Linked DNA regions of Homo sapiens. The protein of the gene in region 2 interacts with the protein of the main gene of each other region in a biochemical or structural test. Each region holds a gene or a part of one and is shown on either strand. Other genes may lie near its edges. The genes, in order: DCUN1D5, UBE2F, NAE1 and RC3H1.

Region 1 (7,037 bases), on a different chromosome or scaffold from region 2:
GTAAGATTGGTCAAGAAAAACAACAAAAAAGGGATGAAGATAATGCTAATGCAAATTAGAAAATGTTATAAATTTTAATCATATTTAAATAAACTTATATGTAAAATAATCAGTTATGAGAAAAGTATGGGACCAAAACATTCAAAAAGAAATAGAAAATCTGAATGGCCCTATGGCCATTAAAAATGTTGGTTTATTAGTTAAAAGTTTTCCTTCCCTCAATACTCACCTGAGTTTGGACAGATGCTAATTCCAGGGTTACATAAGCTTTTTCAAAAAACGGGGGGGAAAAGTAGCAATTCTCTTTTCATTTTCTGAGTCTTATGTACTACAATCTTGTTAAAAAAACTAGCAAGGAGAGTAAGAATGAAACTTAAAAGCTAGTCTCACTTAGGAACCTAGCAAAACAACCCCAAAATCCAGCAATGTATAAAACAGATAACATGACCAAATTTGACTTATTCTAGAAATGCAAGGTTTAATTAATATTAGAAAATTGTCCAAAATATTTACACATTAATGAAATTATGTTACTACACATTATAGGCCTTTGCATTATTGATTTAGTATAGTCTTAGTTAAATCTGAGAATGCCAGGTGGCTGGAGAGCATGTTGAATAACTAAAATTCAGTTTTGAGTGGAATACTGTGGACCACAGTAGATGGCACAATTAATTTGATTAAAGGGAGTCAGATGGTCTCTCAGAGGTGGCAAAATGTGAGTTAGGTCTTGATGAATAATATTTTTATCAGCATGTTTGAGATTTCAAGTGGAAATAATGGGTGCTGAAGTATGGCAGTGGCATTTGGGAATGGTAAGTGATATAATTAGAGCATGGTAAGGTTATCAGGAAGTGGCAGGAGATGAAACTAGAGATTTGTGCCAAATTGTGAAAGGCCTTGACTGCCTTGCTTCTTGCTAAACAGTGGAATTTATCAACCCACTGAGACAAAGTCAGTTAAGATTTTTGAGCCTTCCATATATTTAGCTGCTTATATTTAATGTCTTGTCTTTAAAAATAACACGTATGACTTGTTGTTTGCATGCTTTTGCATATATAACTTATTTGAAGTTAGGTGCTTCTACTGATTGACTTTGACTTTTTGTTCACAAAAATATAGGGATCTTGATTTATGACTGGACCACTTAATGTATTAATTTGCACTGTGTTATATCCTAAACTTTTAAAACTACTCATGACTAATGTCTTTCACCAAACTGTTACCTACGAACTTTCTAAAGAAATGTGTGACAAAGGCGTGATTAGTTTCATTTGCTCTGCCATTTTTAGCTGTATATGTGATAAAACATGTTTTAATACATCTCTTTTTAACTTCGATTTTATTTGGAATTTTTGAATGAGCTGTTTGTTTGTTTTTAAGCAAAGTAATTGGAGTGAACTTTCTTTGATTCCCAGGTTTTCTTTTTTCCCCTTTTTTCTTTTTTTATTGCATTGGTAGATGCAGGGCAAGAAATTTATTACTCTAAATTTGTGACTCAGAATTTTAAAACTAAATTAACTTCATAAATGCGCTCACTTTTTTCTTAATGCATTACGTCTAACCCCCAGTGATACTTTTATTTGATTTTCTTGATTATGTAATTTGTTTGATATTTCTTTTATTTAAGGTGTGACTGCACAGAAAAGTTACAAAACAAATTTGACTTTTTGCGCTCACAGTTGAATGATATTTCGTCATTTAAGAATATCTACAGATATGCCTTTGATTTTGCAAGGGTAGGTGCAATTTTCTTGTTTTGTTGTTTTAATAGCTTTTCATCTTGAGACCACACTTAGGAAAACTTTTTCACTTATATTTTAGGATAAAGATCAGAGAAGCCTTGATATTGATACTGCTAAATCTATGTTAGCTCTTCTGCTTGGGAGGACATGGCCACTGTTTTCAGTATTTTACCAGTACCTGGAGGTACGTATGTTTTTTCGAATTTTGAAAATATTATTTTAAAACTTAATCTGAAAGTTATACTTTTGAGGAACAAGTAGATTTTTAATAGTATGCTTTAAAAAAACTTTAGAGAAAAAATTCTAAAATATGTACATATCAGTTGCTATTTTTAGATAGAAGTTCATGTTTATTAATATATTTTGTACCTAAGATATTTTCAATCCTACCCCCCCAGTCCCCCAAATAAAAGAAACCTCCAAGAAATACATTGTATCACAGACATTTGTCTTGCAGAATTAGTTTCTCGGGGTTTTCATAAGAGAGTTAATGCTAGTACACAAACCTTTAAGCTTCTAAATCTGATTTTCTTCTTTTGTTACACAGGGTCTTAAGCTGAAATGTACATAAGAGAACCAATTTAGTAATAAAACTTTCCTTTTCTACTTAGGCTCAATCTAAAGAAACAGAATAAAGCTATTAATATTTTATGGCCACAAATATGAGAATGGCTATAATAGTATACTTAAATATGCTGGTTACTAAAAAAATGTAAGCTGAAATGATGACGTGTTCTTTTAGAAGGTTTATCATAGCAACTACTATAGGCAGTGATTCTAAGAAGATGCTATTCTTTTTTTCCATTGCTTTGTCTAGTTTTTTTTTTTTAAATCTGTTTTTGTGCCTTTGTAATTCTAGGGTTATTGGTATAGTTCTCACCATATCTTGAATACAGATGCTTTTTCCTTTGGAAATAATTTCTCATAAAGCACATTGCTTATAGCTGCTTCCCTTTTCCCAGAGTAGTAAAAGTTGTGATACAAGACAGTGATATCAGCTGGGCGTGGTGGCACACGCCTGTAATCCCAGCACGTTGGGAGGCCAAGGCAGGCAGATCACTTGAGGCCAGGAGTTCGAGACCAGCCTGGCCAACATGGTGAATCCCCGTCTCTACTAAAAATACACACAAAAAATTAGCTGGGTGTGGTGGTTTGTGCCTGTAGTCCCAGCTACTCGGGAGGCTGAGGCACGAGAATTGCTTGAACCAGGGAGGTGGAGGTTGCAGTAAGCTGAGATTGCACCACTACACTCCAGCCTGGGTGACAGAACGAGACTCTGTCTCAGAAAAAAAAAAAAAGAGACAATGATATGAAAAGGTCTTACATGAATGAGTTTTACGCATGATTCAATCTGTAAGTCCTATAAATTATTTTTGATGGATGGTATCTATTTTCTTCCTATTAGTAGTTTTGGGCAAAAATAAATTTAACTGAATGTAAAAATATTCAGCTCTATGGGGAGCTGAGAAGAACTAAATATTTTCAGACACTTGTTATGTGCAGGTTGTTTGGCATATATTTTTAAAAATCTTTATAATACCATTTTGAATTAAATTCTATCCCCATTTAACAAATGAGGAGGTGGTTTCTATTCTTAAGTAACTTTCCCAAAATCACTCAATTAAGTGGCAAGGGTGGGATTTAAATCGAAGCCTATACTCTTTCACTTGTTTCCAAAGATGCCAAACTCAAAATGTGGCTAAACAGTAAATCTTGAGCAAAGAAATGATTTACTAGGAAGCAGCACAATAGAACATACTGGATGTAGGAAATGTTATATATCTTGATCTCATTGGTGGTAACACAAGTATATACATATGAAAAAGTTAGTTTTATCCTTACTGTTAGTACTCAGTGCTCTTATTATTCCTCAAAAATGAAAAAAAAAGTAAAAAATAGATTATGTTAATATGTAAATGCCCATGAGGAATCTCTTAGAAACACAAATAATTAAAAAAATAGTAAATGTTTTAGAAAAAACCAAATCACAAAAACAGTTAAAACTTAGTTTACTAAATTGAGTAAATGATGTTTGTTTAAATATTTAAATACAAATATTTAAATCATTTTTGCAGCAATCAAAGTATCGTGTTATGAACAAAGATCAATGGTACAATGTATTAGAATTCAGCAGAACAGTCCATGCTGATCTTAGTAACTATGATGAAGATGGTGCTTGTAAGTATAACATAACATGTTCCTTTGAAAACAAAATTTCCAAAAATATTAAATGAGAGTATGCATTTGTGTAGTATTAGCATAGAGGTTTTAAACTTTGTAATAGTAACTTATTTAATTGTGTGAGGGATTGTGGGAGAAGTAGAGAGAGAGCTTAGATTCAGCAGTATTATATAAAATCTATGCTGGTAAATGAAATGTTTTCAGTTCCTCGGCAACCAAACATTTTAGCTAAATTTAAATTATAATTTTTGCATCCAGAAGCTAAAATTCAGCTTTGTTTCTGTCTTTCCTGGCATTTGCCTATGGAAGAAAAGTACAGTCATGATTTTAAAAATATAACAGCAAAACAATCAGCCACAATAGAAAAAGCTTTAACATTATTGTAATATTATGCTACCCATTAACAATATGGCAAATAATGTCAGTATAACTTCTCTCTGAAAACTATAAATTGATTGTGAGCTAACTGATAGTGAAATAGTTATAATTTTTCAATCCGTCAAGTTAAAATATCTGTCCATACTCCTCCATGGAAAGGCTAGAATGCCATAAAACAGGATTTTGAAATAATGATAAATTAATTAGATAAACCAAGTTAATTCTGTAGAACTATAAATTTTTTTCAGTTCCAACCACCATTTTGGTTGGTTGCATGTGTTTTCAGTGTTCAGAAGGGTTACAAGGAAAGGTACATTCCTATAAACTTAAACTGAAATTATACACTTTTTTCTGTGACACTGAAAAAATAAAATAACAGAAGAAGGGATAACTTTATTTCTTCCCACATATATTTTGTCCTCTCTCTACAAGATGGTATAAAATTTAGTATTATTTTAAAGAAATAATACCTAGCAGCAGTAACCTGGCAGCCCAAAGGCTGTATATGGCCCGTAGATGTGTATATTTATGTATTTTGTATCAGCATTTAAAACTAGGAGATTTTGTATTAAAATACAACATTTAGATTTGTTGGAAAAATTTAAAAAGTCTGACAAAACTGTACCTTTATAGTACTCCTTTATAGGAGTCAGAGGCTGGAGTCAAGTGTTAACTGTGTTGGACTTGCTTTTCAGTTTGACAGTTCATGGTATGCCAACACCTAGGCTGTTTTTCAGTTGCCATTTATTATCATATGTGCTCTGCTGCTTTTCTTACGATAGAGAAACATGTCTGTCAAAAGCAATGGAAAAAGACCACCAGAGGATTATGTGTTTTAAGAAGAATAAAGCAAGCATATTTCTTTGTGGCGGTGATTTTTTTCCTACATTTAAACAAAATAAACACTGAGCTCATTTAAACTGCCTACTTGGCTCTGTCAGCAAATGAGTTTGGACCTCCCCTACGTTATAAAAATATATGTTTTAGAATAGTACTTAGCTCATTAATTAGATATTCATTAGGCACTTGCTTTGTGTTCAGCTTTGTACTACATCCTGTTATTGGAATAAAGTAAGTCTCTATTATGGCTGATCCCTCTCAACAAGCTTGTACACTTCTTGGGGAGGCAACATAGAAATATTACCTTCAACACTTTTCAGATTGTTTCATAATTAAATGCCAGAATGCTATGGACACTTAGAAAAAGGGAGAGATTTGTATTGACTCAGTTACTGGAGGGTTCATGAAACACCTTGAGAAGGAAGTTGCTATAGATACCATTGTTCCTTGTGTCTTTAAGGGCAAAAAAGAAAAGGCTAATAAGAAAGCACCATTAAATGGAATAAGGTGTCTAGAAGCAGAACACCCAAAGAAAGGAAGGGTCATTCCTCTGTCATTGCAGAGCTCGTGGGGAGTTTGTTTTATAATTGGAGAGATGAGTTCACTGAATTCTGACAAAAATGGTTTCTTTTTTTCTAGGGCCTGTTCTTCTTGATGAATTTGTTGAGTGGCAAAAAGTCCGTCAGACATCATAGCAAGAACTATGTGAAGAAAATGCAAACCTTTCAATTCCCACGTGTATACAAGCTAATGTGATGAGGGGGAAAAAAATCCAACGGGTGCATTTTCATTCATATGAAAGACTTCTCATAGTACTTTTTTTTCCTTTTTTTAAAGGAGGTTTTTCTTGTTACATGTGATGGGCATTGAGCCACACCTCTTCTTAGACTGAATATTGAAGTTTTTGTTTTGAGTTATGTTTATAACATTTATTTCAGAACAATAAAGATTCAGATTTGTGACAAAGGCCTTAAAGTGAAGATGTCCCTTGAGTGTCAGAGTGGTATTTATTTTTGTAAATTTGAATTTTTTGATTTTTGAGGTTCCAATTCACCGTGAATTTACAGAATTTTCAAGATTTTAAACAGTCTTAATATTTGGCAACATAGTCTGCTGATGGTATGGCTCATTATAGTCATCTCTGCACAATTTGGAAGACTGTTGGCCTTGACTTCTGGGATAATGATTTGCTGATGCAGCTAATAAACATTTCTAGGTATTGGAAAAATGCTCCTACTTTTAGCTCTGGGTTTCTATAAAAGCTGCCAAGGTCTTATGCAGATGTCTTATCTCAGAGAGCTTAGAATTGGAAAGATTATGTCCAGTTGTTTTGTTTTCTAAAAAAGTTGTATTATTAAGTTGTATCATCATTATTATTGTTGATAATAGCATATTTATATTTTTAACTGTCATTATATAGGGAATTTTGTTTAAAGCACTTTTTTTTTTTTTTTTTGCCTTAAGAGAACGTTAGCTGTGATATGGATTTAATTAAGATACACATAGGAAAAGAAGACAATAGAATAAGGAATCATGAGAGAACTCTGGGTATAATTAATTGTGCACAACTCAATAGAGCCATTTACGTTGGTAGTATTGCAGCTTGCTAATTATCACAATTTTCTGCCTGTTGGTAATCAAGTGTCTTGAGGAAAGGGAAGGCTTTCCTAATTCATGTAAAAGGCACTTTTGTACTAGCAGCAGGCCTGTTTGTACATTCCTTTTCAAACCATCCAGTATCCCAGTGATATGAAAACTTTGTTCATATTCATAGCCCAGTCACAACTTCAGAAACATTTCTAGTGTCATTGTTTGAGTAGAGAGAAGTAAAGAGGTTATTTTTCCATAATAAGGGAGTGTTTCTATTAGGATTTAAGGTAAAGGTTGATTTTT
Region 2 (3,306 bases):
TTTGATGTCAGAATAACTGATATTACCACTTTCAGTGTGGTCCAGAGGGCACACTGTCTTTCATGTACACTGCATAAACGTTTCCACTGGACAGCAGGCGTTTCTCCCACAGAAGCGCTCTTCTGAAAAGTCCTGCATCAACACCTGCACCACCAGCTGGGGAACTCCAGGGAGCCCGAACAACTACTATGGGATGTGCCCTGACTTGGGCCTGGGACTGGCACCAAGCAGAGAACCTCATTTCCTGGGTCAGAGGGGGCAGGAATTAGCTGCTGGCCTCCTGCCCTGCCTAGAGAGGAAGCCTAGTGCTCAGCTGGCAAGTTCCTCTGACACTAGGCAGAGGAAAAGTGTGAAGCTGCAGTACCTCCCTCTCCCAGGCCCTGAGAGGTGGGGATTAATGTGTCTCCTGGACAAGCCCTGAGCTCCTGAGATGCCATCATTCTCTTTAACCAATCTCACCCTTCCTGCTCTGTGTGGCCTGTTAGCCAGGGGCCACCCTCAAGTCTAATGGGTGCAAAGAGGAAGCAAGGCCTACATTCCTCACCTGCTGGGTCTCCGTGACAGACTGATCTCACAATCAGAGATTCTATAAATTAAGAAAAACAAACTAAACCCAGTAGATGGCAGATGGGGGAATCCAGAGGTCTAAGGAAGCTGGCAGTTAAGTTTGAGAGTGTTAGGCAGGCAGCAAATGAAACTAGACAGACATTTATTTTGTGTTTGATTTCACTGGTTCAAATGTCTACATGCTGGAGTAAATCCACTTGCCTCTCTTCAGGGCTTTTCCTCTGCAGTATATTAACCTGGCCGAGGATGGCATATGCCACTGTTGACTCCTGGTCCTCCAAGGCCTAGGAGGCTCACCCCACCGGCAGGGCCTGGAGCCATAGCAAACTCAGAAGAAGGCCACAGGTACAGTCTCAGTGACATCAGACATTGGGCTGATTCCTGAGGCATCGCTCCTGTCTCCCAGGACAGCAGGGTCTGGCTCTCTGATAAGTAGCTACCAGGTCACAATCACATGACCACTGCAAAAGCATCAACCCCAGCTGGTCCAGGCTCCAGCCAGTTTCCTCTGGGCAGCATGTTAGAATGGGCTCCCTGCCTTTTTGTTTTGATCATCCAAATCTAGCTTCAAAGGGCTCCAAAATGTGCTCACCACATCCGGACCCGAAAGCAAGAGCTGATTTTTAAGAGTGAGATTCTCATTGCATTTGGACAAAATGAATAATGTGCCTTTCATATTTTCTTTGTATTTCTCTTCAATAGTTGCTTGACCCAACATCTTTCTGTCTGCTCTATACAATGAAAATACAAACTAAATGAGAATAGAAAAAATAATTAAAGCATTGAATTGTACAAATTACAAATCTGTTCCAAAATATACTTACATTAAATAAAATACGCATTTCAATAAGAGATCTACAGTGAATGACTCTATGCATTCTGGGAGGCTTCACAACATCTAGGCAGGGCCAACATTCGTGAAAGAAGCTAAGAGATTTTGCATCCAATCACAGTTTGTAGCGGGTATCTTATTGCCAATCTGCGAGTTACACTGAACACATCATTAGCATCGCTTGTGCAGAAAACCAATTTTGTTTGGGAAAAGGGAAAGCAAGCTCTGGCCTCAATTTTGAGTTCATTACAACTTCTTAAGAATTTCACCAACAGCCTATACAGTACAAGTTCAAAAAAGTAAACATGTTAAGGTAAGCAGACAACTCTTCAGAAGCCCAAACACATTTTCTTGCTGTATTTATGTTGAATTCTCCATCTACAATGAGCAGTCATGAAGATGGTCTTCTTCAGGGCAACATGGTCACAGGACTGGGGCAATCCAGGGGACTGAGAGGGAGCATGAGGACGGGAGAGGGGGCTACCTCTTGCTGTTTCATGTTAGAGACAAACTGTAACACAGTCCATGGGCCTGCAATCGTCCCCTTTTATCATCTGGCATAACGTTTGATGTAGTCATCCACTTTATTCCGGAAGTCCTCCTGTGGAGTAACAGCATTGGGGACAGAAAGAAGAACAGGAGGAGTGAGTGAGTGAGTGAAGCAGCGCTTCAGGGACAAGTCAGATCCACCAGCACCAAGGTCCCCTGTGGTCGCCAAGGTGGTAGAAGGACTGGGACCTTGCGGAGTCTGAGTGCCATTTCGCCACGACCTGGGTGCCTACTGCACGCAAGACACAGTGCTGGGTATGTTGAGGGGGGAGCACGTGGAAGGCCTGAGTGGAAGGGACCCTAAGGGGGTACCTATCCCTTCTCATTTTCCAGATGGGGAAAGTGGAGCCCAGAAAAGTGTGGTCGAGGTCACAAAGCCAAGACTCCTTTGGCCACAATGGATGTGAGCCACAGCTGCTGCTCTCAGGAAGACCCTTGTTTCTGGATTTGTCTTCCTAGAATGATTTCCCTGGATGCTGCTACCTACTTAAAATGTGCCTGCTCTTCACAGCCCATGTACAGGCCCCCATCTCTTCTGGGCAGGATGACCACCCTGCCCAGAAGAGAGCTGGGTGTGCCACAGAGCTCCATCCTCATGCATTGAAATGAAGGTGGACAGTGACCAAAGGCGGTGTGGACCTAGGAATCACCCCAGGCCAGTATGGGTGGAACAATCTTCTCGGATCTGGGCCACTGTCAGGTTTGTCCCTGGATCTGGTCTCCCCAAGGTTAGGAGTAAAATCCCATGGGACTGTATGAGCCGTAAGAATGACTTGGAGCTCTTAACCCTCTCACTCCTACAACACAGCTGCTGGGTCTCAGATGTCCCTGCAGGATCACACTGCTTCGGTCCCATCAATGCCATGCAGCCCCCACTGCCCAGGGAACACAGCACAGTTACCATAGTTCTTAGTGGGCATGAGCTCCATTTCCTTAGCTAAGCCTCAGTCCTCCTGTCTAAGCCTCAGTCTAACCTGTTTGCTGATTCCACTGCATAATCCCGACACCTGGCAATGTGCAGGGTATAACCTGGCACTCGATGTATACCTCGCTGCTGCCGCGATGCCCTCTTGCAGGGAGATCCTGCCTGGAGCATGGTCCTGGCCAGCTGGGCACCAGGTGCCTGCCCTCCTGCCACACTTTTAGTTAGCACAGCGACCCTTTCCAGGGCGGGCAAGTTCCCAATTTGAAGCTATGGATACGGTCCCATGACTTGCTCTGGTCTCAGGGTGAGAAAGTGGAGTGCTCTGAGTCTACCCAGGTGCCTCTGCCCTGCCAACCGCCCTATTTGTCTACAGGATGGCGTTTGGAGCCTCCCACATGGGCCTTTACCCCGCAACAAAGGGGGACTGTGCAGA
Region 3 (7,519 bases), on a different chromosome or scaffold from region 2:
ACTACAGGCACAAGCCACTGTACCTGGCTTCATTTGTTTTTGTTTGCTGAGCATCCATCTTTCCACTCCACTGTATGCTCCATAAGGGCCCAGACAGCTGTCAAATGTATGGAGGAATCGCCTAGAAGAACCAGATGGACCGTAAACGCCTGTTTTCTCCATCAAAGTATGGCACGTAGAAGACACCTGACATATATGGTTGATGGATGCTTAGATAGTTGGAGAGTAAATTTAAGAATACTGGTGCATCTTGGCTGGGCGCAGTGGCTCACGCCTGTAATCCCAGCACTTTGGGAGGCGGAGGCAGGCAGATCACCTGAGGTCAGGAGTTTGAGACCAGGCTGGCCAACATAGTGAAACCCCGTCTCTACTAAAAATACAAAAATTAACCAGGCACAGTGGCACGCACCTATAATCCCAGCTACTAGGGAGGCTGAGGCATGAGAATCGCATGAACGCAGGAGGCGGAGATTGCAGTGAGCCAAGACCGCGCCACTGCACTCCAGCCTGCGCAACACAGTGAGACTCCGTCTCAAAAAAAAAAAAAAAAAAATACTGGTGCATCTCAAGCAGGGTGAGATAGTGTGTGTGCCTGTAGTCCCAGCTGCTTGGGAGACTGAGGCAGGAGGATCACTCCAGCCCAGGAGATCAAGGCTGTGGTGTGCCAATAATCATACCTGCGAACAGCCACTGCACTCCAGCCTGGGTAACATACTGAGACCCACCTCAAAAATAAAACAAAAAGAATACTGAGGCCAGGCACTGTGGCTCATGCCTGTAATCCTAGCACTTTGGGAGGCTGAGGCAGGAGGATCACTTGAGTGCAGAGGTACGAGACCAGCCTGGGCAAACCCCCATCTCTAAAACAGTTAGCTAAGCATGGTGGCACATGCCTGTAGTCCCAGCTACTCAAGAGGCTGAGGCAGGAGGATCGTTAGAGCCCAGGAAGTTGAGGCTGCAGTGAGCAGTGTTCTTGCCACTGCACTCTAGCCACTGCACTCTAGCCTGGGTCACAAAGTGAGACCTTGTCCCTGAAAAAAAAAAAAAAAAGAATCCTGGTGTGTCTCTAAGTAACATGTTTCAAGAATAGGCCAAATGAATCAGTCCTCTCTACTATCTTGCTGGCCCAACTAACGTGAAGTAAGGAGGGGCTTATTGACTGCTGCATTTTGCTTCTAACTGCTTCCCTTTGACACTTCAAAACCAGTTCTCACTATGAAAGTAAAGTTTGGGACTTAAATGGAATGCCCTCAGCAAAAACCCTCTTTTGTTAGAGTTGCTTAGTAACCTCAACTATCTTCTCAGCTCTGTCATGTACAGTTATACCTGCATTAGAAACACAAGAACTCCAAGAATTTACAAGAAAACCTAAGTTGGTTATAAGGACTGTTACCCTGTTTCTTCTCCGAAAAGCTTGGAAGCAGGATGTAACTGAGTACCTCCGAAAAAGCCAGAAGAGCCTTAGTTTACATCCTGGCTCAAAGATATGGGGAACTCTGGGCAAATTACCTAACTTCTCCAAGACTCTGTTTCTCCAACTGTAAAGCACAGGAAATGGTTGCTTTCAAGGGTACTCTCAGAACTAAGTGCCTAAAGCCTCTACTACAGCACTAGGCTGGTGGCGCAAACAGAAGCTCCAGTCCTTGGGGACATATAACTTCTGTTGTCTCAGAGGCTCCAGGAAGGAGGAAAGCTGAGCAGCTTTGTTATCTCCACAGCCTCAAGACACAGAAGACGCTCAATAAATAAGGAATGGGTAGTGCAAGGAGAAAAGGCAAGGGTGGGGAAGTACCCAAGGACCCTCCTGATGGCTTAGGCCTGCACTGTCCATTAAGGTAGCTGCTAGCCACATGTACTACTGAGCACAAGCAATGAGGCTAGTGTTAACTGAGATGTGCTGGTAAGTGTAAAATACAATATTTATACGATAGTTTTGGGGGGGCTTTTTTGACGGAGTCTCGCTCTGTCACCCAGGCTGGAGTGCAGTGGCACGATCTCGGCTCCCTGAAACCTACACCTCCTGGATTCAACCGATTCTCCAGCCTCAGCCTCCAGAGTAACTGGGATTACAGGCGCGCACCACCACGCCCAGCTAATTTCTGAATTTTTAAATAGAAACAGGGTTTCACCATGTTGCCCAGGCTGGTCTCGAACTCCTGACCTCAGGTGATCCGCCCGCTTCGGCCTCCCAAAGTGCTGGGATTACAGGCGTGAGCCACCGTGCCGGTCCTCCAAGACAGTTTTAAAAAGGAAAATACTCATGACCAGCTTGGGGAAAGGTGGCAAAAACCTCGTTTCTACAAAAACAAAAATAAAAATAAAAATAAAAATTTAAGTAAAATATCTCAAGAACTTTTTATATTGTGTTGAAATAGTAATGTTTTGGACATATTGGGTTAAATTGTATTTAAAAATCAATTTCATCTGTTTCATTTTACCTTTAGTGTGGTTACTAGAAAATTTATAATTACATTTGCGGCTCACATGAGACTAGCATTTTATTTCCATTGGACAGCGCTGGCTGAGAACAAAACCTAACCCTCTGTGCCGCCCTCGCGGCCGGGATGCGGTGCGCCCCGGGCCTCCCCATTCGGAAAACGAGGAGCCTGGGCGCAACGGGGCCGGCAGCCGCCTTAGCTACCCGGCTGGCGCTGGGGACCCCGTCCCCCGAACTGCACACCGCGTGGCGGGGGAAGGGGTCCCAGCCCTCGCGGAGCACCTTTGGCCCAGGGCGGGAGCTCCGAGCGCCGGCTTCCCGCGCCCCGCACGGCCCGGCCCAGCCTGGAAGAAGGCCTGAGGAAGGCCCGACCGCGCCGCCCGCGCCCTTAGGCCCGGCCCGAATGCTGGAAAGCCCGCCGGCCCGCCCTCGGCTCGGTGAGCCTCGGCTCACCTCAGCTGCCGGTCGTACTTCTGCTCCTTGAGCAGCTTTCCCAGCTGCGCCATGGCCGCGCCTGCCGCGCGGAAAACAGCCGAGCCCCTGCGGAGCGCCGCCACCAGCTCCACAAGCGCGCAGGCGCACTGAGCGCCCCTTCGCCGCTACCGTCTCCTGCGCGCTGCCTGCAGGGGGCGCCGCACTGCACTGCGCACGCGTCGCCGGTACGCCGGGGCCTAAGCGGCCCTGGTACCCGAGCGGGTCTGGGGCTCTTGGTCCCCATCGGCCAGAAAGGCAGACCCGCTAGCCTGCCAATTTGCCCTCTGTCCATGCAGTAATTGGGGGCGACTGGGGCATTGGAATCAGGCATACTTGTATTTCGACCACTTAACTGGCTGTGAGATCTACTCTTTACCTCTCAAATCCTCAGTGTGCTCACCTGTGCAGTGGGGATAAATGGGTCCCAAGTGTCTTTTGACCTTAAATGAGATTTTGAATACAGGAGGCCAGACTCCCCCCAAATCTTGCATGAATAATAACTTTCATTTTGATGATCATTATTTTTCACCCATTTCTTCCTCTCATGAAAAGCCCACAAGCCTATTTTGAATCACAAAGCTAGGGGCTCCCTGCTGCAGATGCAGACAAGTCCAGGGCTCTGTTCTTGGAGAGTTTAGTCTCATGAAGGAAGAGGGACAGCAAACAAGCACTTACCAGACAATGTGGCCTTCCTCTAGATAGAGGGAAGCAGGGTGCTCAGGGGTGCACAGAAGAACCTCCCCAGTCCCCCTCTCCAAGAATGTTTCATGTGGTTTGGAGATGGAGGAGTGTTTTGTTTTGTTTTGTTTTGTTTTGTTTGAGACAGGGTCTCTCTCTATTGCTCAGACTGGAGTTCGGTGGTGTGATCTCAATTCACTGCAGCTTCAACCTCCCAGGCAGCAATCCTCTCACCTCAGCCTCCCAAGTAGCTGGGACTACAGGCATGCACCACCACACCTGGCTAATTTTTGTACATTTTTTGTAGAGATGGGGTTTCGTCATGGCCCAGGCTGGTCTCAAACTCCTGGGCTCAAGCGATCTGCCCGCCTTGGCCTCCCAATGTGCTGAGATTATAGGCATGATCCACTGTGCCCAGCTGGAAGGGTGTTTTAAGCATAAGGAACAGCAGGTGCCATCTCTAGGAAGCAAAGAAGGCATAGCAAGCTGTAGGTGCTAGAGTAAGTTTGGTCAGGTGAAGGATAGGGAGTGGTTGAGAAGGTTTGAGAGACAGTTGGGACAGGCTGGGTTCTGAAGACTGTGAACATAGATCCAAGGAGGAATTTAAAGTCCTCCACTTCCTGAAAAGACCCTCCTTTCAGGAAGAGAACGGCTGTCCTGTGGGGATGGGAGGCCAAGGAAGGAGGTTACCCCATGAGAACAATTGGGAGGGGGGTGGTGGTGCTGAAGACAAGGTGACCATCTGTGAGGGAGACGAAGACTCCTTCCCTGCTATCTCGCAGACCCTACAGGCACCTTCAGGTTAATAACTGCCTGAAATAAGGTGAAAATGAACACAGATCCCCACCCCCAATCCCCTAGGATGGGGACCAGAGAGATGGCACAGTTTGATGGTAATGATGCAGTGATGATGAATTGCACTTTGCCCTGGGCATGGTCTCCTGGACTAGGGTGAGAGTACACCTTCCCATACCTTCCCTTGCCCTTACCCAGCTCCCATGGAACACACTGATGGGAAACAGAGGTGTGAGGCTTTCCCAGCTCATCATGTGTTTGTGCTGTCACATTTCCTTCTCCAAGTGGACAGGTAAAATATAAGGGATAATAAAATACACTCCGGGAAAGTAGGAAGGTCAAAAGGCAGCAGATGAGAGTTCACTGCTTAGTTTCTCATACCTATGGACTTCATGAAAGGAAACACCCACAAATTTGGTAGAAGGCTAGTCATATTGCCCGTGAAGAAGTAAATGATTTTGAAAAGGTTTGTGTTGGTGTTGTCTGTAAAATGATACCTCAGGGTATCAGTTTCCTAGGAATGTCGTAACAAAGAACCACAAACTGGGTGACTTAAAACAAGAGAAATTTATTGTCTCACAGTTCTGGAGGCTGGAAGTCTACAATCAAAGCACGGGTGGGACTATGCTCCTTCTGAAACCTGTAGGGGAGAATCCGTCCGCTTCTTCTTGGCTTCTGGGGGTTTGCTGGCAATCTTTGGCTAGCAGCCACAGCACTTCAGTCTCTGCCTCCATCATCACATGGCATTCTCCCCTCATGTCTCTGTGTTTCCTCTCTTAAGGACACAAGTCACATTGGATCAGGGCTCACACTGATGACTTCATCTTAACTGGTTTACACTTGCAGAGACCCTGTTTCCAAATAAGATCACCTTCACGGGTACTGGCAGGTTAGGACTTCAGTAACTTCTGAGGAGGACATAATTCAGCCCAGAAGCTTTGTATTAATATTATCATTATTTTTTTAGAGGTGGGGTCACACTATATTGCCCAGACTTGTCTCAAACTCCTGGGTTGAAGCAGTCCTCCTGCCTCAGCCCCTCAAAGTACTGGGACTACAGGCATGAGCCACTGCACCTGGCCCTGCCCATTTTTAATAGGGTTATTTGTTTTATTGTTATTGAGCGGTCTGAGTTTGTACATTTTGGATATTAGTCCCTGATCTAATGTATATTTTGTAAATATTTTTTTCTCAATCTGTGGGTTGTCTCTTTATTCTGTCATTTCCTTTGCTGTGCAGAAGCTTTTTAATTTGGTATAAACCCATTTGTCTATTTTTGCTTTTGTTGCCTATGCTTTTGGAGTCTGGTTACTATTTTTTGGCAGCAGTGGGGGACAGGATCTCATTCTTTCACCTGAGCTGGAGTGCAGTGGTATAATCATGGCTCACTGTAGCCACAACCTCCTAGGTTCAAGCAATCCTCCCACTTCAGCCTCCTGAGCAGCTGAGACTACAGGCACCCACCACCACACCTGGCTAATTTTTAGATTATTTTCTGTAGAGATGAAAGTGAAAATAATAATAATAATTCAACCCGTAAAACCATGTAAAGGTGCCTATGCTGGAGCAGAGGAGGCTGATCAGACACAGTTCTTTTGACGGCCCTGACATGAAAGAATTCAGGGCCCACTGGTGAGTTCTCCCTGTTGTGGAGGGTGGAAACCAGATATATCAGACCAGGAAGCCATGGTGTAATTCATTTAAGCTATTGGTTTTCAAAGTGTGGTCCTGGACCAGCGGCATCAACATCACTTTGGAAACTTGTTAGAAAGGCAAATTCGGCCAGGCGCGGTGGCTTACGCCTGTAATCCCAGCACTTTGGGAGGCAGAGGCGGGTGGATCATGAGGTCAGGAGATCGAGACCACGGTGAAACCCCGTCTCTACTAAAAATACAAAAAATTAGCTGGGCGCAGTGGTGGTCGCCTCTAGTCCCAGCTACTCGGGAGGCTGAGGCAGGAGAATGGCGTGAACCAGGAAGGTGGAGCTTGCAGTGAGCCGAGATCCCGCCACTGCACTCCAGCCTGGGCGACAGAGTGAGACTCCGTCTCAAAAAAAAAAAAAAAAAAAAAAAGAAAGGCAAATTCTTGGCTGGGTACAGTGGTTCATGACTGTAATTCCAGCACTTTGGGAGGCCAAGGCAGGAGGATTCCTTGAGGCCAGGAGTTTGAGACTAGCCTGAGCAACATAGCAAGACCCTGTCTCTACAAAAAGAAAAAAAAAAATTAAAAATTAGCCAGGCATGGTGGTGTATGCCTGTAGTACTAGCTACCTGGAAGGCTAAGGTGGGAGGATCACTTGAGCCCAGGAGTTTGTGGTTGCAGTGAGCTATGATCTCGCCACTGCACTCCAACCTGGGCAACAGAGTGAGACATTCCTCTCTTAAAAAAAATTAAGTATTAAAAAAAAAAAAAGAAAGCCAGGTAAGGTGGTTCACTCCGGTAATCCCAACACTTAGGAGGCTAAGGCAGGAGGATTGCTTGAGCCCAGGAGCTCGAAACCAGGCTGGGTGACATGGCGAAACCTTGTCTCTGAAAAAAAAAGAAACACAAATTCTTGGACCTTATCCATACTTGCTGAATCAGAAACTGTAGAGTGAGGCCCAGGAAACTGTTTTAACAAATCATCCAGGTGATTCTGATACATGCTTGATCCTACCCTGGCTTTCTGAGCACTTACTATGATGCCAGGCAGGCCCCTGACATGCATCACCTCGTGAGCTCACAACCACCCAATGCAACAGATATTGCTGCTAACCCCGTTTTACAGACAGAGGGCAGATGTTTGGGGAGAAGAGTGAAGTAACAAAGATTAAGAGGTGGTGCAGGGGTTAGAAACAAATACCCCAGTCTGGTGCGGTGGCTCACACCTGTAATCACACCTGTAGTCCCACACCTGCAGTATTTTGGGAGGCCAAGGCAGGAGGATCACTTGAGGCCAGGAGTTAGAGACCAGCCTGGGCAACATAACAAGACCCCGTCTCTACAAAAACTAAAGAATGTGGCCGGGTGCTGTGGCTCACACCTATAATCCAAGCACTTTGGGAGGCCGAGGTGAGCAGATCATGAGGTCAGGAGTTCAAGACCAGCCTGGCCAATATGGTGAAACCTTGTCTCTATTAAAAATATAAAAATTTG
Region 4 (7,037 bases), on a different chromosome or scaffold from region 2:
TTGCCACTACCACATGTGTCACAGTTAAACTTTGAAGCATCTTCTGTGTTGACAGATTCCTTTTTTTGCCTGTGAACTTACCCTATTATCATTATTTGTATCCTGTCAGATATCTACTTGTAAGACCAAGAAAGTATTTGTTCATGTGAATCACAAAAGAAACACTTAAATTTTTGTTTTTAGCATATCTGAATGCTATAAAATATAAAAACTCATACTGTTTACATAGGACAGATTTATCATACTGCTGTAATTGTTTTCATGGTTAATTTGTTACATAGGCAATTACTAAATTGTGCCTTTGAAATACTTTATAAATTTTTTTAAATAATTAAAGATATTCAATGATGTTAAAGTTGGGTCAGCTAATATTTGAAGTTCTTAATTTATAATTTTTTTTCTTTAAGCCATAGATAATTTAGAATTCTGCAGTATTTTTCATCTCCAGATCTTAGGGCTTGAAATGGATTCTGATGGGTCTAATCAGTCCACTCTTGCATATATCTTGAAAATGGTCAGCATCCAACAAAGTGAAGAATAAACTGATAAATGATCCCTGTTTGGTGAACACCTCAGATCAGGATGTTCCTTGGCAGGGTATTCTGACCTGGTTTAGCTTTGGCCCCGTCTGTGCTCAGGGTTCAGGTATTCTGCAGGATTGGGTTCAGAGGGATTAAAATTCTCAGATTGGCCTGTATCAAAACAGTCACAGATTTTGGTCAGCCTTTTCCCAGAACCGTCTCCAAGATTTTTTCTTTTGTGTAATTCTGGAATCTAGGCTGGATTTGGACTAGCTTTAGAGGTTATGATAAAAGATTAATTTTGTCAGGCATTTATACAAAGGAGGTTTTCTTACTACAGAGTTTCTTAAGGTAGATTCCTTCTATTTTTGAAGTGTGACATTTACCAATCTGAAGTAATGTTGCCCTACATCCCCCAGACACTTAACTTTAGCATATTTATTTCTGTCCATTTTTGGTCAGGATTGTGCCTGTTTACTTATATAATATTCTTGTTTACTTTTTGTTTATTAGATACTTCTTATTAGTTTATATTGTTTTCCTGATTGAGGCTTGGGGAAAGAATTTTCCTCAAATTTAAAGTCACCTTACTTATTTGCAGATGTATGTCAGAGCAATATTCTTTTGACAGTTATCAAGCATTTTAGCAATGCTGTATGTATATATTATGAATGAATGACAGAGTCACTCATGGTCTGTCACCCAGGCTGGAGTGCAGTGGCATTATCATAGCTCACTTCAGCCTCAAACTCCTTGGTTTAAGTGTTATTCCCGCCTTACCTGGCTACTTTTTTTAATTTTTATTATTTTTATAGAGATAGCATTTTGCTGTGTTGCCCAGGGTGGTCTCAAACTCCTGGGAGCAAGGTGATCCTCCCACTTCTGCCTCCCAAAGTGCTGAGATTACAGGCATAACAATGTTTTAAACTGACACTGGTATACCTTCACTGATTATTACTGTGCACATGTGGTAATAATTTAACTTATAAGTGCATTTTATCTAAAAAATTTCCAAGATCTAAATAGCATTTGAACATGGTAGCAGTTTTTTTTTTTTTTTTTTTTTTTTTTTGAGCAAGAAAAGAGTTCTAAAGGGGTCAGTTTTATCTACAGATTAACATAATTTTTTTTATTGAGGTTAAGTCACATAACATTAACCATTTTAAAGTAAACAGTTTAGGTGGCACTTTATACATTCACAATGTTGTTCAACCACCAGCTCTAATTCCAGAATGTGTTCATTACCCCAAAAGGAAACACTGTACCCATTAAGCAGTTACTCTGTATTCCCCTCTTCCCTAATCCCTAGCAAACGCCATTCTGCTTTCTGTCTCTAATTTGAGCCAACATCGAGGAAGAGTACTCTGTACAATTGAAATTGCAGAAAAAACTTTGGGATGTGATTGTTAGGAATAAAAAACCACCTAATTCTTTGCATGCTTCTCTAAGTACAGTAGACATGCTGCCAGGGACTCTTTATGGAAGAAAAGTTGAGACTCATAGAAGTTTGCAGTTTTGTTTTGATCACCCCAGAGGGTTTTGCTCAAACTCTTAGACTCATTTGTATTTCTTCATTGGGTTATAAGAACTAAAATTTAATGTTCTATACAAATGTGAACAACTAATACTTGGTCTCCTATCTAGAACTTGTTTGCCTTTTAGGTTTTCTTAATGTATAGAAGAAACTAGGAATATTCACAAAGGATTTATTTGAAGTTACACTGGGAAACGATTTTTAGAATTTGAAGCTCTTTGATCCCTGTGAATCTAACTTTATGACTATTTTATTCAGCTAATCTTTGAGAATATTTAGAGTTTTGATTTGCGTGGCACTCTGCTTTTAATCCCTTGTTGAATAAGTGTTAGAAACCTTGATCTTGGCCCTATACCTGATCACCTCTAAAAACATGAACAGTGTTACAAAGGCAGTTGTTTAGTAAGCTTTTTTGGATTGTTTTAATTGGCTGACTGAGGGAGACAAAATTAGTTTTTTTTTTTCTTTCTAGAATAAAGGGTAATAAACTTGGACTTTAGAGTTACTGCTAAGATTGACATTTCCATTTGGGGCTTTAGAAATATATTGTTATCTTAAATTCAAAATGGTACTTTATCTAATTGAATTGAAATCTTAAAATTTATGAGAAACAAAAGTCACTTTATGTTCTTAGTAAATATTTCTAATGGGGTTATAGGAGATCTAAGTACAAAAAAAATTTAAAATTTTGTTATTAATCTCCCCTCCTTAAGGAAAATTTTATTAATATACATAATTATAATTTAGTTATAAGAACAACTTAAGTTGAGTACAGTGGCTCAAGCCTGTAATCCTAGCACTTTAGGAGGCCAAGGCAGGAGGATCTCATGAAGCCAGGAGTTCCAGACCAGCCTGGGCAATAGAGTGAAACCCCACCTCAAAAAAAAAAAAAAAAAAAAGGAAACTTAAAAAATGATAAGGAAAAGGATTATGTCAGAATATTTAGAACTCTGCAGTAAAATTTCTGGTTTTCTGTAATTTTTTTCAGGAAAATGTCAACTTTTTGTAAATACATGTTTCTGTGTTTTTATATATGCCTCATTAATTTTTTAGACTAACATTTAGTGGAAAGCTAATGTACTCAATTAATACATTTAAATTATAAAAATAACTTTTTTTTTGAGACGGAGTCTTGCTCTGTCACCCAGGCTGGAGTGCAATGGCATGATCTCGGCTCACTACAACCTCTGCCTCCTGGGTTCAAGCAATTCTTGTGTCTCAGCCTCCCAAGTAGCTGGGATCACAGACTCATGCCACCATGCCCGGCCAAATTTTGTATTTTCAGTAGAGATGGGATTTCACCACGTTAGCCAGGCTGGTCTTGAACTCCTGATCTCAGGTGATCTACCTGCCACGGCCTTCCAGAGTGCTGGGATTACAGACATGAGCCACTGCACCCGGCCGAACTTTTATCTTGAAGTAGATAGTGTCAACAAATACAAAAATAAAAATAATGTCTTTAAATGAGGTGATGTTTAGAGCTATATCCATGAAAAATATGGGATAGGCTAGGAGGCGGTGACTCATACCTATAATCCCACCACTTTGGGAGGCCGAGGTGGCAGGATCACTTGAGGCCAAGAGTTCCAGACCAGCCTGGCTAACATAGTGAGACCCCATCTGTATTAAAACATATATATATATATATAAAATATGAGGCCAGGTGCAGTGGCTCACGCCTGTAATCCCAGAACTTCGGGAGGCTGAGGCGGGTAGGTCACAAGGTCAGGAGTCGAAGACCAGCCTGGCCAAGATGGTGAAACCCCATCTCTACTAAAAATACAAAAAAATTAGCCGGGCATGGTGGCAGGCACCTGTAATCCCAGCAACTCAGGAGGCTGAGGCAGAGAATTGCTTGAACCCAGGAGGCGGAGGAGGTTGCAGTGAGCTGAAATCATGCCACTGCACTCCAGCCTGGGCGACAGAGCGAGACTTGTCTCAAAAAAAAAAAAAGTGTAGTGGAAAACTTTTGAATGAAACAGAATCACTAAATTCTTAGCTTTATTATAGAACAGTATTTAATTTGTCCAGGTCTCAGTTTAGATTAAGAAGTAGGCCAAAAAAAAAAAAAAGGCCTATAATTATCAGAAAAATTAATGAACTAAATCATCTGCACTAACATATTGGTTTAGAAGTTCTCTTGCTTTGTACATAATTCAAGGAATTTGATTATCTATTTTCTCGTCCCACAGCAGATTAAAAGGTGCAAATTAGATGTTGGAGTAGAGCCATATAGGTAGGATGGAGGGCCAGCTGGGTGGCAGGAAAAAAGTCACATTAGCCTGAGGCTGTTTAAAATAGGGACAGCAGTTACCTATACAACACCTCATTAGACTCTGAGTATATCATTAACTGTTATATTGTGCTATATATAAAGTATTGCTCCTGATGGAAAATTCATTGTGGGAAAATTATGTTTGTAATTTTGGGAATCATAAACATATATACAGTAGAGTGGTGTATATTAGAATATAGACCTCGCTAAAAAAAATAGAACATACACTTTGGAGTCCAGTATATCTAGGTTCTCATCTTCTATGACTTAAGCATTATAATTCCTCATCTCTAAAAACAGAAATGGTAATACTTTTATCTAAAGGTTGTTTGGAAATGTAAATAATAATATCTTTAGTATAGTACCTGACACCTTTAATGAATGTTATTTTCCTCCTTAAATTCTGTTTAACAAAAATTAGAAAGATATTCATCCAGAATATTTTTGATCAAGTTCTACTGTAAAATGTTAATATAGAAGCTACATATAAAACCTTATATAGTTTAGGGTTAACTGTATGTGTACTTTTGGGAGTGGTAGTCAGAAATGAAGTAATTCTTCATATGCCATTCTCATTTTCTTCCCACATCAGTCTATTTATATGGGCCTATGCTGTTCAATACTGGCCACTAACTATATGTGGCTATGTAAATTTGAGTTTTTTGAAAGATTTTTTTTTTTAGAACAGTTTTGGATTTACAGAAAAATTGCTCAAAAAAATACACAGTTCCCATTTATACTGTCCCCCACGGTTTCCTCTGTTAGTATCTTGCATTAGTGTGGTGTGTTGGTTATCACTGAGGAACCAGTGTTGATACATTATTAACTAAAGTCCATAGTTCACATTAGGATTCACCCTTTGTGTTGGACAGTTCTATGGGTTTTGCCAAATGCATAACATTATACATCCACTATTCTAGAATCGTGCAGAATGGTTTCATTGACCTAAAAATGTCCCATGTTCCACTTACTCATCTCTGCCTCATCCCTCTGAACCTCTGGCTACCACTGATCTTTTTACAGTCATAGTTTTACCTTTCCAGAATGTCATGTGGTTGGAATCATAGTATATAGTCCTTTCAGACTGGCATCTTCACTTAACAATATGCATTTAGGTCTCTTCGTCAGTATCTTCTTCTTTTGTTTTTGTTTAAAATAGAGATTGGTCTTGAACTCCTGGGCTCAGGCAGTGCTCCTGCCTTGGCCTCCCAAAAGTGCTGGGATTATAGGCGTGAGCCACTGTGCCTGGCCCTCTTCATGTCTTTTCATGGCTTCACAGTTTATTTATTTTACTGCTTAATAATATTCCATTGTGGCTGAGCATGGTGGCTCACGCCTGTAATCCCAGCACTTTGGGAGGCCAAGGATCACGAGGTCAGGCGATCAAGACCATACTGGCCAACATGGTGAAACCCTGTCTCTACTAAAAATACAAAAATTAGCCACACGTGGTGGTGTGAACCTATAGTCCCAGCTGCTTGGGAGGCTGAGGCAGGAGAATCGCTTGAACCCAGGCGGCGGAGGTTGCAGTGAGCTGAGATCGCGCCACTACACTCCAGCCTGGCGACAGAGTGAGACCGTGTCTCAAAAAATATATATATATAATAATAATAATATTCCATTGTATGGATACATTTAAATTTTATTTAAAATTTAATTCCTCCGTCTCACCAGCACATTTCAAGGGCTCAATAGCCACATGTACCTAGTGGCTACCATATTGGAAAGCACTGATATATATGATTCCCCCAAGGTTCAATTCTCCACTTCCATTCACTCTCATGGAGAACTTTCCTGTTTATATGATCTCAGTTTTTCCTCAAGCCTACATTTTCAATGCATTATCTATTTTGTTTTGTTGCTTGTACTATCAGCAACCCTCAATTGGTTATTTAAAATCCTTTACTCCCCCAAAGAACCATTATTTTCAAATGTTGTCCATTATAGTATGGTTTCCTAGGTTTTCCATCACAGCATCATCTCTTTTTAGTCTGCTCTTCTTTTTTTTAATTTTCTAAAATTTTATTTTGTTTTTGATCCTTCTTTTTTTAAAGAATTTATGTTGCAGCATTCTATAATAGTCTGATCCTTTTTGTCCTTAAACTCTGGAATCATCTTTTTGTTTTTTATTTTCCTCTAAACCTTTTGAATATTTAGCAGAGGTGTGCAGATCTCAGCACTAATAAATGGCAGAGTTGGTATTAGAATCTAGATCTCCTTATTCTAGTTCTTTCTTTTCTTTTCTTTTCTTTTTTTTTTTTTGAGACAGAGTCTCACTCTTGTCGCCCAGGCTGGAGTGCAGTCGCGTGATCTTGGCTCACTGCAAGCTCTGCCTCCTGGGTCCACGCCATTCTCCTGCCTCAGCCTCCCGAGTAGCTGGGACTACAGGCGCCCGCCACCACACCCGGCTAATTTTTTTGTAGTTTTAGTAGAGACAGTGTTTCATCATGTTAGCCAGGATGGTCTCGATCTCCTGACCTCATGATCCGCCTGCCCCGGCCTCCCAAAGTGCTGGGATTACAGGTGTGAGCCACTGTGCCCGGCTCTAGTTCTTTCTTGGGATCACCACTATTTGGGGCTACTTTTAGAAGTTATTTTGAAGAGGGTATTGGAGACTGATTATGTATTATGTGATTTAAAATATCTTTATAAGTTAAATCTATAGAAGCTATAGCTATAGATTTCATAAACATATTATTTATAATTC

Evidence for each region.
Region 1: the proteins of UBE2F (region 2) and DCUN1D5 form a complex in vitro, tested with the Homo sapiens proteins (one study listed by BioGRID).
Region 3: of the proteins of UBE2F (region 2) and NAE1, one has a biochemical effect on the other in vitro, tested with the Homo sapiens proteins (one study listed by BioGRID).
Region 4: the proteins of UBE2F (region 2) and RC3H1 form a complex in vitro, tested with the Homo sapiens proteins (one study listed by BioGRID).

The regions. Positions count from the first base shown.
Region 1 is NC_000011.10:103,061,161-103,068,197, reverse strand, and holds part of DCUN1D5 (DCN1-like protein 5), read left to right. Parts: intron 1-1,630; coding exon 1,631-1,739; intron 1,740-1,824; coding exon 1,825-1,929; intron 1,930-3,820; coding exon 3,821-3,923; intron 3,924-5,783; coding exon 5,784-5,839; 3' UTR 5,840-7,037. UniProt on the Homo sapiens protein: Contributes to the neddylation of all cullins by transferring NEDD8 from N-terminally acetylated NEDD8-conjugating E2s enzyme to different cullin C-terminal domain-RBX complexes which is necessary for the activation of cullin-RING E3 ubiquitin ligases (CRLs).
Region 2 is NC_000002.12:238,039,982-238,043,287, reverse strand, and holds the end of UBE2F (NEDD8-conjugating enzyme UBE2F), read right to left. Parts: intron 2,001-3,306; coding exon 1,950-2,000; 3' UTR 506-1,949; downstream 1-505. UniProt on the Homo sapiens protein: Accepts the ubiquitin-like protein NEDD8 from the UBA3-NAE1 E1 complex and catalyzes its covalent attachment to other proteins. Together with the E3 ubiquitin ligase RNF7/RBX2, specifically neddylates cullin-5 (CUL5).
Region 3 is NC_000016.10:66,827,957-66,835,475, forward strand, and holds the start of NAE1 (NEDD8-activating enzyme E1 regulatory subunit), read right to left. Parts: upstream 3,021-7,519; 5' UTR 2,944-3,020; coding exon 2,891-2,943; intron 122-2,890; exon of another isoform or gene 59-121; coding exon of another isoform or gene 24-58; intron 1-23. UniProt on the Homo sapiens protein: Regulatory subunit of the dimeric UBA3-NAE1 E1 enzyme. E1 activates NEDD8 by first adenylating its C-terminal glycine residue with ATP, thereafter linking this residue to the side chain of the catalytic cysteine, yielding a NEDD8-UBA3 thioester and free AMP.
Region 4 is NC_000001.11:174,012,340-174,019,376, reverse strand, and holds part of RC3H1 (roquin-1), read left to right. Parts: intron 1-7,037. UniProt on the Homo sapiens protein: Post-transcriptional repressor of mRNAs containing a conserved stem loop motif, called constitutive decay element (CDE), which is often located in the 3'-UTR, as in HMGXB3, ICOS, IER3, NFKBID, NFKBIZ, PPP1R10, TNF, TNFRSF4 and in many more mRNAs.